Linked DNA regions of Homo sapiens: region 2 is linked to region 1. The links come from fine-mapping of genetic effects on gene expression. A gene starts in region 1. The other region holds a variant in brackets. All regions are shown on one strand. Distances are between the middles of the regions. Region 1 holds the start of LINCADL (lincRNA adipogenesis and lipogenesis associated). Region 2 has its middle 29 kb from the start of LINCADL.

What was found. PIP is the estimated chance that this variant, and not a neighbour inherited with it, causes the effect. A credible set is the group of variants that fine-mapping cannot tell apart.
Region 2: its variant is the best candidate, but not a certain one, in a credible set for the expression of LINCADL in visceral fat (GTEx, PIP 0.58).

Annotation. Positions count from the first base shown.
Region 1 is chr5:115,953,846-115,959,234 of GRCh38, forward strand. It overlaps LINCADL (lincRNA adipogenesis and lipogenesis associated), which reads left to right and starts at 2,726. Exons shown (of 2, transcript NR_157226.1): 1 at 2,726-3,075; 2 at 4,584-4,756.
Region 2 is chr5:115,924,789-115,930,177 of GRCh38, forward strand. No RefSeq gene overlaps it. Among named protein-coding and RNA genes, the nearest start is that of LINCADL, 29 kb to the right of the region's middle. RefSeq lists an enhancer at 5,165-5,389. The variant C/T (reference allele first, on the strand shown) is at 1,997.

The sequences.
Region 1 (5,389 bases):
AGGCTTTGGTGTTTTAGGGATTTATGTCCCTCTTATTAAGGCCATGGGATACAACATTTGTGTTTCATAACCCCTTTGGTAATATAGAATGCTTTAAACTGCTCCATCAGATTAACTGTGTGATACAAAACCAATATAGAATGCTGCCGTTATGAGAAAGTGGAACTGATAGTGTAACTGGAGATGGAGATTGGCTGAGGCAGAGCCTGGAATCAGGTAACTTCAAGGAAAAAGGAAGCCAGTCAAAGAAGGTCAATAAGAATAATGAAACTTGAAGATATCGAAAAATTTCCTTTCTTTTTTAATAAATATATTCTGCACATTTTAAATGTTTCTTTTTGCTTCATTTAAATGCCATTTTCAAACATTAGTGAATAAACAGAAAGATTCTTAAGATTAGTGAATAAACAGAAAGATTCTAAACATCACACATGCTGAGTGATGGAAGTAGCATGGACTTCAGGCAGGGCTCAGAGACCTGGGTTTAAATGCTGACTCTGCCTGTTATCAGCTCTGTATTTTTAAGCAAATTGCTGAAGCTCATTGAGCCCCAGTTTCCATTCTTGTTCAATGGAGATAAAAACAAAGGCCTGTAGAACTGTTTTAAGGAGTAAATGAAATGCATATACATTAAAGTGCTTGCTAGAGTGAGTGGCACATAAGAGCTCCACATGAGATAGCAATATATATGCTCTTCTGCTACATACATTGGTAGAACCAGCACATTGGTTACAATTTGTCAAGCTGATCACCAGCCTCTTTTTCCATGATTAATGAAGTGGGCACGATAGATTTAGCATTTCTTCTGCAAAGAAAGGAAGAAAGTTAAAAGATTAGGTAGAAACGCTTCTGTAACAAAGAACATTTTTAAGAACATATTTTTCTAGTTTATAATGTTCATGGCACTATAGAAGTGTCCAAACATCTCTTATGTAGCAATTGATGCAATTGCACCTTTCGAGCAGAACTGCAGACTAAGTAGATCAAGTAAAGTGGAGCTGCCTAGTTTGTAGGGACTTTATGACCTCAATATAGTTGTAACAATTATAATTCTTGCTAATTCAAGCCTGTGTGAACACTTAGAAAAGCTAACCTGAGTCCTAGGAAGAAAAAAAATGTATGAAGCAGTGGTGTTGTGCTGAAAATAAAAACAGTGGGGTAAAATTAGCCATATATATATATGGGTATATATATAAATATACATGCTTTAATAACCCGTGATATAAATCAACAATCAGCCTTATGAGTTATAAAGCCATTGGATAATAATTGGAAAATGGATTACATAATCACAGCCAAAAAGCACGGGAAATCATAGACCTTTTGATTTTATCTTCGAAGATAGATTTAATTTGGATTTAAACATTTTAATTATATGCATTAATCTTATCTTCTCCAGTCCTCTAGTTTTTGAAAGTGATTCTTGGCCTTAGTAATAACATTCTTGAAGCTGAATCTATGCTAGTAGATATAACTTCCATGGTAATAAATAGAGTTGGAACAAAGAGGAGAAAGTGGACTGTCAAAACTTGTTCATTGAATTTGTAACTTTTTCCATTAAACAATAACTTGTAGTTTATCAGGTATTCCCAGGAAAAATGAACTGCTCTACCTAAATAAATTTTGTAGGCAAGAACCCTACCCCACCTCCAATTTTTTATGTTAACTATTTCTGTGAGAAAATCTTACATTTTTCATTCTCCTAAAACAGGGTAGGCAGAATATAACCAAATACCTCTGTTGATTTTGTCCTGGACAACTCAGGGTAACCTCATTACTACTCAGTGTGCTAGTTTCTACTCCCACTTCTACCTGTTTATAGCCTGCTGCTCCTGGTGAATGATAGTTATAACCTAGGCAGAATTCCAGGATTTCCAGGGGAAGCTAAATAAAGTTCTTAGGACAGTAAGATTAATTTTGTGTATATTGCTGCATTAATAGGTCCTATCTGTGACAATGAGGGAAAAAGGGACTGGAATGGGAGCGGGAAGCCTGGAGTTCTAGATACTACTCTTCCACCAAACAGCTGTGTGATAGGAGCAAGCAACATGATTTCCCCATCCATATCCCTCCTGTGCTCCAAGGTTCTGAAGATATCTTCATAGGACTGCAGTAATGCAAAGTACATAAATTTGTGACATCTTTTGCTCTCATTATTGGGAAGATTTTTTTCTTGCTTTTGGATTTGGGGCTAAGTAAAAGATGTGTTCGCTTAAAGTGAAATCGTAGTTAATTGGAATTCAGGAATCTTATATTCTTTCCCAAATTTTATAAAAGACTAATTAGGCATATACTATGCCAAGCAGTGTAACAGGAACAGTAAATAAAGTGATGAATAGGACAGCCCTTATCTTTGCCTTCATGGAGTAAACAGTCCTGTTGATAAGATGGGCCTCGAAATTAGCAATCCTATATCAGGAGAAAAGTTAAGAGGCTTCTGCAGGGCACGAAGTCAGGGGTGATGTTAGCGTGGCAGGGGAGTGTGTTGAGGCACTGAGGGGAGAGAATATTAAAGAGATATCTTGGAGGTAAAACTGATAAACTTGGCAATTGATTCCATGTGAGGAGTGAAGAAGAGGGAGGAAACATGGCTAACTCCCAACTTTCTGGCTTGAGCAACTGGGGGTGGGAAGGGAGATACCATTTCCCAAGAAAGAAAATATTGGAGGAATTGGAAGAGCAGCAGATATTGCGGGGTGAAAGGTTGAGAGAAAGAACTGAGTCCAGTTCAGACCGAGGAGCCTGTGACACAGTCAACACCAATGCCAAGGAGCCAGTGGATACAGGGGTTGAGGTTGCAGACATAAACACAGGATTCATCAGCATATGTGTGGTTTCTGAACCTATGGGACAGGATGGCATCACTCAGGGAAAGAGCACAGAGTCAGAAGAAAATATGACCCAAGACCAGGCCTTGAAGAACTCCGATATTTAATGTTTGGGTAGAAGAAAAGGCAAACGAAAGTATCTGAAAAGATGGGCCAGAGAAGAGAGAATCAACCAAGGGGAGATGGTCCCAGAAGTCAAACAGAAGGGAGTGATTCGCTGTGATGAATGCTGCAGAGGCCAAATAAGGTGGGAACTTTGGCTTTAGACATGTGGACATTAGAGTGATCTTAGACTGAGAAGTTTTAAGAGATGATAGGGTTGGAATTTCATTGGGAATAATTTGAAGAGTAACAGGGGAGAAAATAGAGACAACAAAAGCACATACTCTTTAAAGAAGTTTTGCTATACAGGAGATAGAATAATGGATGGGCAGGCATAGGAGATCAAGGAAGCATCTTTTTAAAAACTACAGACGTCAGCATGTTTAAACAAGAAGAGAGAGTGTGACAGAGAGGGAGAGGAAAGAAAGTTGGAGTAAGAGTGAGAAAGAGTAAGATTAATAGATAGCAAAATATAGCTGGGCGAGGTGGCTCATGCCTGTAATCTCAGCACTTTGGGAGGCCGGGCGGGGGGAAAATGTTTCACGAGGTCAGGAGTTCGAGACCACCCTGGCCAACATGGTGAAACCCCGTCTGTACTAAAAATACAAAAATTAGCCGAGTGTGGTGGCTCATGCCTGTAATCTCAGCTACTTGGCTGGCTGAGACAGGAGAAGAATCCCTTGAACCTAGGGAGGCAGAGGTTGTAGTGAGCCAAGATCGTGCCACTGCACTCTAGCCTGGGTGACAGAGAGAGACTCCGTCTCAAAAAAGAAGAAGAAGAAAAAAAGCATAAGATATCCAAGAAAATTAGAGAGAATAAGATTCAGAACCTAAGTGAGTGAACTGACCTTGGACAAGAAGCACATGTTATTTGTTGTGTCCAGAGAGAAGAAAAGATGGGTGTGGATGAAGATAGGTCTGGTATGGAAAGTTGAAGTGGTTCCCAATTACTGACTTCTGTGTGCTCTGTGAAGTAGGAGGCAAGGGGGAAGGAGGAGGAAATTATAAGTGAGGAAGGTGGTGAAGGTGTGAAAATAGTGGCAGATAGTGAAAAAGCAAGACATTAGAGAAAAGTGGTAGGACTGGAGGCACAGCAGGGGCTGGTCACTGGTCATTATGAATCCATGGCGTTACCAGCCTGCCTTCTGGACTTATGGGTTTGAAACTGCAACTGGACTTACTAGTAATTTCACCTTTTGATACTGCCTTTGCAAAAATTATAACAGTGGGAAAATTATGACAGTGAAAGCGATCTGACCTAACCAACTCCATCTTGCTTCTAACCTCCAATCTGTCCTTGTTTATTCCAGAGCATAGGCCAAACTAGCTTTGAGAGAAACTTAGTTTATAGGTTAACATTGAAACAAAGATGATAATAACTCCCTCATGAAATAAACCTCCTTCTTACCTAGAGAGCACACTGTCTTTGTAAGACTAACAAATTAGCCATAATACAAGAAATTCTGGTTTAGGGAGTCATGGAGCTAGAGGCCATAAGATTCTGAACCTCCCCAGTTGCTCCTAGGCATAACATCACTATTGTAACATCTAAAATTGGTGCTTGAGATGTTTTTTGGACCCTGAGTTCTGATATACCAGCTGGTGCCACCCAGACTGATAATCTGGCCTAACCAGTTTTGCAATCCCACCCAGGAAAAGAAGACAGCAAGAAGAAGCCACTTTGAGCCCCTATGATTTCATCTTTGATCCACTCATCCAGCACTCCATACTCCTTGATCCCTACCCACCAAATTCTCCTTAAAAGCCCTGGTCTCCAAATGTTCAAGGCGACCGATTTGAGTAATAAAACTCTAGTCTCCCATTTAGCTGGCTGTCTGTGAATTAAATTCTTTCTCTATAGCAGTTCTCCTGTCTTGATACATTAGCTGTATCTGGGCAGTGGGCAAGGCGAACCCGTTGGGCCATTTCACTATAACGTCTTTCTAGAAAAGATTTCTCTCACAGACATCAGTAGCTCAAGCTGGTGACACAGCATGGCCATTTGTGCAAATAAAGGCTCTTCTTTCTTTGCACATTGGATGTCTCTCTGACCTCCAGTGCTCGCCTGTACTCTCTTTCTCTTGCTATACCATATCCTTTGCCTTTAAGTAAATGCCTATATGAATATACTCTGTGGAATCTGGTGAATCCATGCAAATAACCAAACTGGGGAAGTCTTTGCAATGGTGTAACTATACAATATAATACTATACAGCTGCAGAAAAGTATGTGAAATGTATCTGTGGACTGATATGAAAAGATATCTAGAATATATTGTTAAATGAAAATGCAGGTGAGGAACTGCAATATAGTATACTGTTTTTCTTGTACAAAAGAGAGAAATACAAGGGCATATAATTGTATTCACTTGATTTGCATGAGGAAACACTGGAAGGTTACACACACAAAAAACTATTTAAAATGATTAACTATGGAAGTGATGGAAGCAAGATATCTTA
Region 2 (5,389 bases), 29 kb before region 1:
AAATTATAGACCATTTGAAAAACAATTCCTTGGGTGCTACTGCGCCCTGGTTGACACAAGTGATCATGCTTCCAGAACTGACCTGAGATCTGTCCAGCCCACAAAATCATAAGGCTAGGCAGACCCAGCAAAGATCTCTGCTAAGATGGAAGTGGTGTACATGGGAAAGAATGGGGCCAGAGTGCACACGTTAGCTGCACAAGTCCTGGCCCCAGTTTCGTTTTCCACTGTTGACCAATGCCTTTCCCTCAGCTCCTGGGTAAGACAATGGTGAGGAGAAACGCTTCCAATGGGCAGAACATTTGAGTTGTGCACATGGGCATCCACTGGGTATGAAAGTAAAAGTGGCCCAAGGTAAGAGTACTTATGGAAGCATAGGCAATAGCTAATGGCTTGGCTGGTTAGTTAATGGATCAGAAGATCAGGAACAAGGAGGTTTGGATAGGAGGCATGTGGGTGAATCTATGGGAATAAGCATGAAAATACAATCTTTCTTTTTGTTTGGTATCTGAAAAGTCTGAATCGTATGTTACCTGACAGAGAGCATCTATCACAAAGAGGTGCTTACACAATCAAATAGACAGAAAGACTCACTAGAATGTCACTCTGCCTCTGTTATTGGCCACTGCAGTGTTGGCACAATAGGAACTTGAGTAGAGAAGCCATAGTGACAGGGATGGAGGCTGCACATGGTCCTAACAGCAGGGGCTTCTGCTCACCAAGGCTGATTGAGCTACTGCTTGTGTCAAATATCCCATCTACCAGTAACAGAGAGCAAGGCTCAGCCCCTGATTCAGCACCTTCGCTTGAGGAAACCAGCCACTTGGTGGCAAGTAACTTTGGATGCCTTCCATCTTGAATAGGGAGCAAATTAATTCTGACTGGAATTGATACATATTCTGGATATGAACTTTCCTTTCCTGGCTGCATGGCCTCAGCCAACAACACTATCCAAGGACCTACAAAGGGTTTGATCCACCTACCTAGGATCCTACATAACCTCACAAAGGACCAAGGAATTCACTTTACAACAAAGGAGGTACAGCAGTGAATACAGATCAATGAGACTGATTGACTGGTCTTGTCACAAGCCCCGAAACCTAGAAGCTGCTAGATTGATAGAGTAATGAAATGGCCTTTTAAAGGGACACCTGAACACCAGCTTGGAGATGATACCTTGTGAAGAGGGACATATTCTATAGGATGTAACATATACCCTAATTATAACAAATATATGGTGCTGTGTCTCCAGTAGGTAGACTCCGTAAGTCGAGGCATCAAGAGGTAAAAGTAGGAGCGGCCCCACTTCTCCCAGTGATCCACTTGGGAAATTTGTGCTTCTGGTCCTCACAAGTCTAGGATCTATGGGTATAGAAGTCTTGGTTCCCAAAAAGGAAATGCTGCTTTCAAGCAGAACGAGAGTCACATTAGCTTTTAGTCTGCAGCTGCCTTCTAGTCCTTCTGGCTCCTCAAATCAGGAGACCAGTAGGCAAAGAAAGGAGTTTGCATCCACCGTTACTCCACAGCTCATTGAAGTCTGACCAAAAGAGTGTCTTTCAGAGTACCATAAATAGTAGCTATAATGGCTCATCTAGTGGAAATCACAGCCATTTTGGAGACAGATTTCATTAGGACTCTGCTACTACTGACAATACAGCTCACTCAGTGAGATGCCAAAACCAAAACATTTAACATACTCTGCCTCCTCACACTATATATATATATAGCCTATCAAGTTACCCACTGCATATATATATATATATATATATATATCCTATTATATACTAGGTAACTTGCCTGTGTAAGATCACAGGATTTGGGAAATATAATTTCTATGTTATAACTAGCTTCTATAATAGATTGCTTAGTAAAATGAATAGGATTGGGAAAAAGATAAAAAGGAACTTACTGATGGCTGGGTGTGGTGTCTCAGGCCTGTAATCCCAGCACTTTGGGAGGTCGAGGCAGGTGGATCATGAGGTCAGGAGATCGAGAC[C/T]ATTCTGGCCAACATGGTGAAACCCTGTCTCTACTAAAAAATGCAAAAAATTAGCTGGGCGTGGTGGTGGGCGCCTGTAGTCCCAGCTACTCAGGAGGCTGAGGCAGGGGAATCACTTGAACCCAGGAGGTGGAGGTTGCAGTGAGCAGAGATCGCGCCACTGCATTCCAGCCTGGCAACACTGCAAGACTCCGTCTCAAAAAAAATAAATAAATAAAAAGAAAATAAAAAGAAACTCACTGATATCCAACGTTTCAACCATCCACACCTTAACAAGTCCCTTTACTTTGAGCCCATCATAAAATAAACCATTGTCAGTGTTTGAAAGAATTCCATGTCCTGCATATCCGAGGGTGATTAATTACATGGCTTCTAGAGTCAAAACACGATTTCCAAACCTAGTTTGGTCTTTTAATTAAACCAAATAATCTCTGTAAGTCTGTTTTCTCATCTGTAAATAGGAATGCCAGTGGTACTTACCTCATAGAACTATTGTGATGATTACATGCCATATAGAGTGCTTAGCATGTGCCAAACACAAAGAAGTTCAGCATTTCATAAAATTGTGGCTTTTTTTTTTTTTAACTTACATGCCTTTGCCTCAGCAGTAAGACCATACAAATACAGAAGGAACAAGTCACTGGTTAGTAAATAGTTTTTCACTTTCAAGTGTTTGTTCCTTGGAACGTGCTCATCTGGAACCTTCTCTCTCTGATACCGTTCTTAACTACTCAAGCTCCCGAATTTTGGTGTGCTAAGACCTTTCCTCACCACTACGCCAGTCTCTCTTAGGGTTGGGGAGAGACTGCATATTGCAGCACAGAAATTAAGATCAGAGTATTTTCCACAGTGAAGCTGTTTTAGTTTGAAGGGGCAGAGGTTCTAATTTTTACATTTAAAACTCCCTTTGTAGTTTACCTTCCACTTCCTGGAGTTTATTTTTATAGGTACTTTTCATGTTCCAATGAAACCAGAAGAGATACTATACACAAACCTAAAAAACCTTTATTCTAGAATTATTAACAATACATATTCATGTTTTTCAAAGACCTCTCCCCCCAATATGGAGGCTAAAATAGATTATTTTCATATTCCATCCTTTGACACTAACCGCCACCACCACTCTATCCCTACCCCCACTCCAATGAGCTGGCCCTGTGAATGTGGCCTGGGCCTCCCAGAAAGTTGTCCCATGTTGGCTTTAATTAGATATTATTTCCCATACATGTGGTATATTTTATGCTAGTTATTTGTAGAAACAACAGACGCTGGTTACTGACTATTCCTTCTACCTTTAAGCTGCTTTCTAGTGCCCTACAATGGACCACATAGGATTAGAGACACTGGTAAAATTATTTTTTGCACAAAAAGAGCTTCTAAACAGCTTTATAATGTGGAAGTCATTATCTTTTCAGTTTTCACTGGACCAGTACTACCTATGCCCTGTTCAAATGATCTTTAAATGTACTTTAAATGTGATTGCAGTAAAATCTACCAAACTAAAATGCATGTTTAGATGACAGAAATTAGCTACCCTGTAGTTCTGGAGATTTGAAACAATTTGCAGATTTGCTTGTTTAGTAGTCTGGCAGTGGCAACCTGGAATAGGCCACCGTGTGCCAAGATGATCTTTTGCACATATCCACAATCACCACTTTCAGATTCACTATATAATACACTCTTTTTAATGCAGCCATCACTTATCAAAAGCCTAATTCATAAGAGCTTGTGATGTTTTACACCAGGTAGGAGAGGCATAGTTTTGGAGCACAGGGAGGACACAGCTGGGGAAGGATTTCAAAAGAGATTGAACTGCTGGACACAACTGACTGAGAGAAGATCCAGCCAGAGCAGGATCTTTCAACCTCTGCACTTACATTTTGGGCTGGATAATTCATCGTTGTTGGGGGGGTGTCCTGTGCATTGCAGGATGATTAGCAGCAGCATCCCTGGTTTCTACCCACTAGATGCCAACAACAGCCCCCCCTCCAAGTCGTAACAGCAAAAATATCTCCAGACACTGCCCAACATTATTATGACACCTATGAGTCAGGGTGCATCAGGTAATCGGAATGAGTCAGGGTGGAGCAGGTAATCGGAATGAGTCAGGGTGGAGCAGGTAATCGGAATGAGTCAGGGTGCATCAGGTAATCGGAATGAGTCAGGGTGCATCAGGTAATCGGAATGAGTCAGGGTGGAGCAGGTAATCGGAATGAGTCAGGGTGCATCAGGTAATCGGAATGAGTCAGGGTGGAGCAGGTAATCGGAATGAGTCAGGGTGGAGCAGGTAATCGGAATGAGTCAGGGTGGAGCAGGTAATCGGAATGAATCAGGGTGGAGCAGGTAATTGGGAATGAGTCAGGGTGCAGCAGGTAATTGGAATGAGTCTGGGTTGCAAAGCCAACCTCAGTTGAGAACTACTGACAGAGAGAATTCAGAGTTCTAGGGAAACACTTGGTATATAGTCTGTACTTTGTTAGGGCCCTGATGGCAGTGGCACCAACTATGAACTACTAAGAGGCATTTATCATATGCTGTCAAGAGGCTGACATTTAAAGCCCCTTTCAGTTGGATCCCAGTCTACACTTCTCAGAGTCTACTCTCTTCCTTGAATGCCAGTGTTAGATACTGATTAAGGGATTATGCAATCTATTTAGTGGGTCCTAACCAATATTTTTTAAAAAATGAAATAATGGAATAGAATAAAATAATACAGAAAATATCAATACATTTTGTGGAATAATACTGATTTGCAAGATTTTTTATTCTGTGTGTGTGCACAGCTGTATGTTTAGTCATATTGTTACCAGAAAGGAGTCCCGATCCAGACCCCAAGAGAGGGTTCTTGGATCTCGTGCAAGAATGAATTCAGGGCTAGTCCGTGGTGCAAAGTGAAAGAAAGTTTATTAAGAAAGTAAAGGAATAAAAGAATGGCTACTCTATAGACAAAGCAGCCCCGGGAGCTGCTGGTTGTCCATTTTTATGGTTATTTGGGGTGGATTATTCATGCCTCCCCTTTTTAAACCATATAGGGTAACTTCCTGATGTTGCCATGGCATTTGTAAACTGTCATGGTGCTGGTGGGAATGTAGCAGTGAGGAAGAGCAGAAGTCACTCTCGTTGCCATTTTGGTTTTGGGGGGTTTTGGCTGGCTCTTTTACTGTGTTATAAAGTTTCAGTGCCACAAAAGAAATAGTACTCGAAAATAAATGTTTGTTTTTAATTCTCAGCAAGGCAAGGTACTTCTATAGAAGGGTGCACCCTTACAGATGGAGCAACGATGAGCGCACACTTGGACAAGGGAGGGGAAGGGGTTCTTATCCCTGACGCACGTGGCCCCCGTTGTTGTGTCTTTCTGCTATTGGCCAGGGTTAGACCGTGCAGGCTAAACTA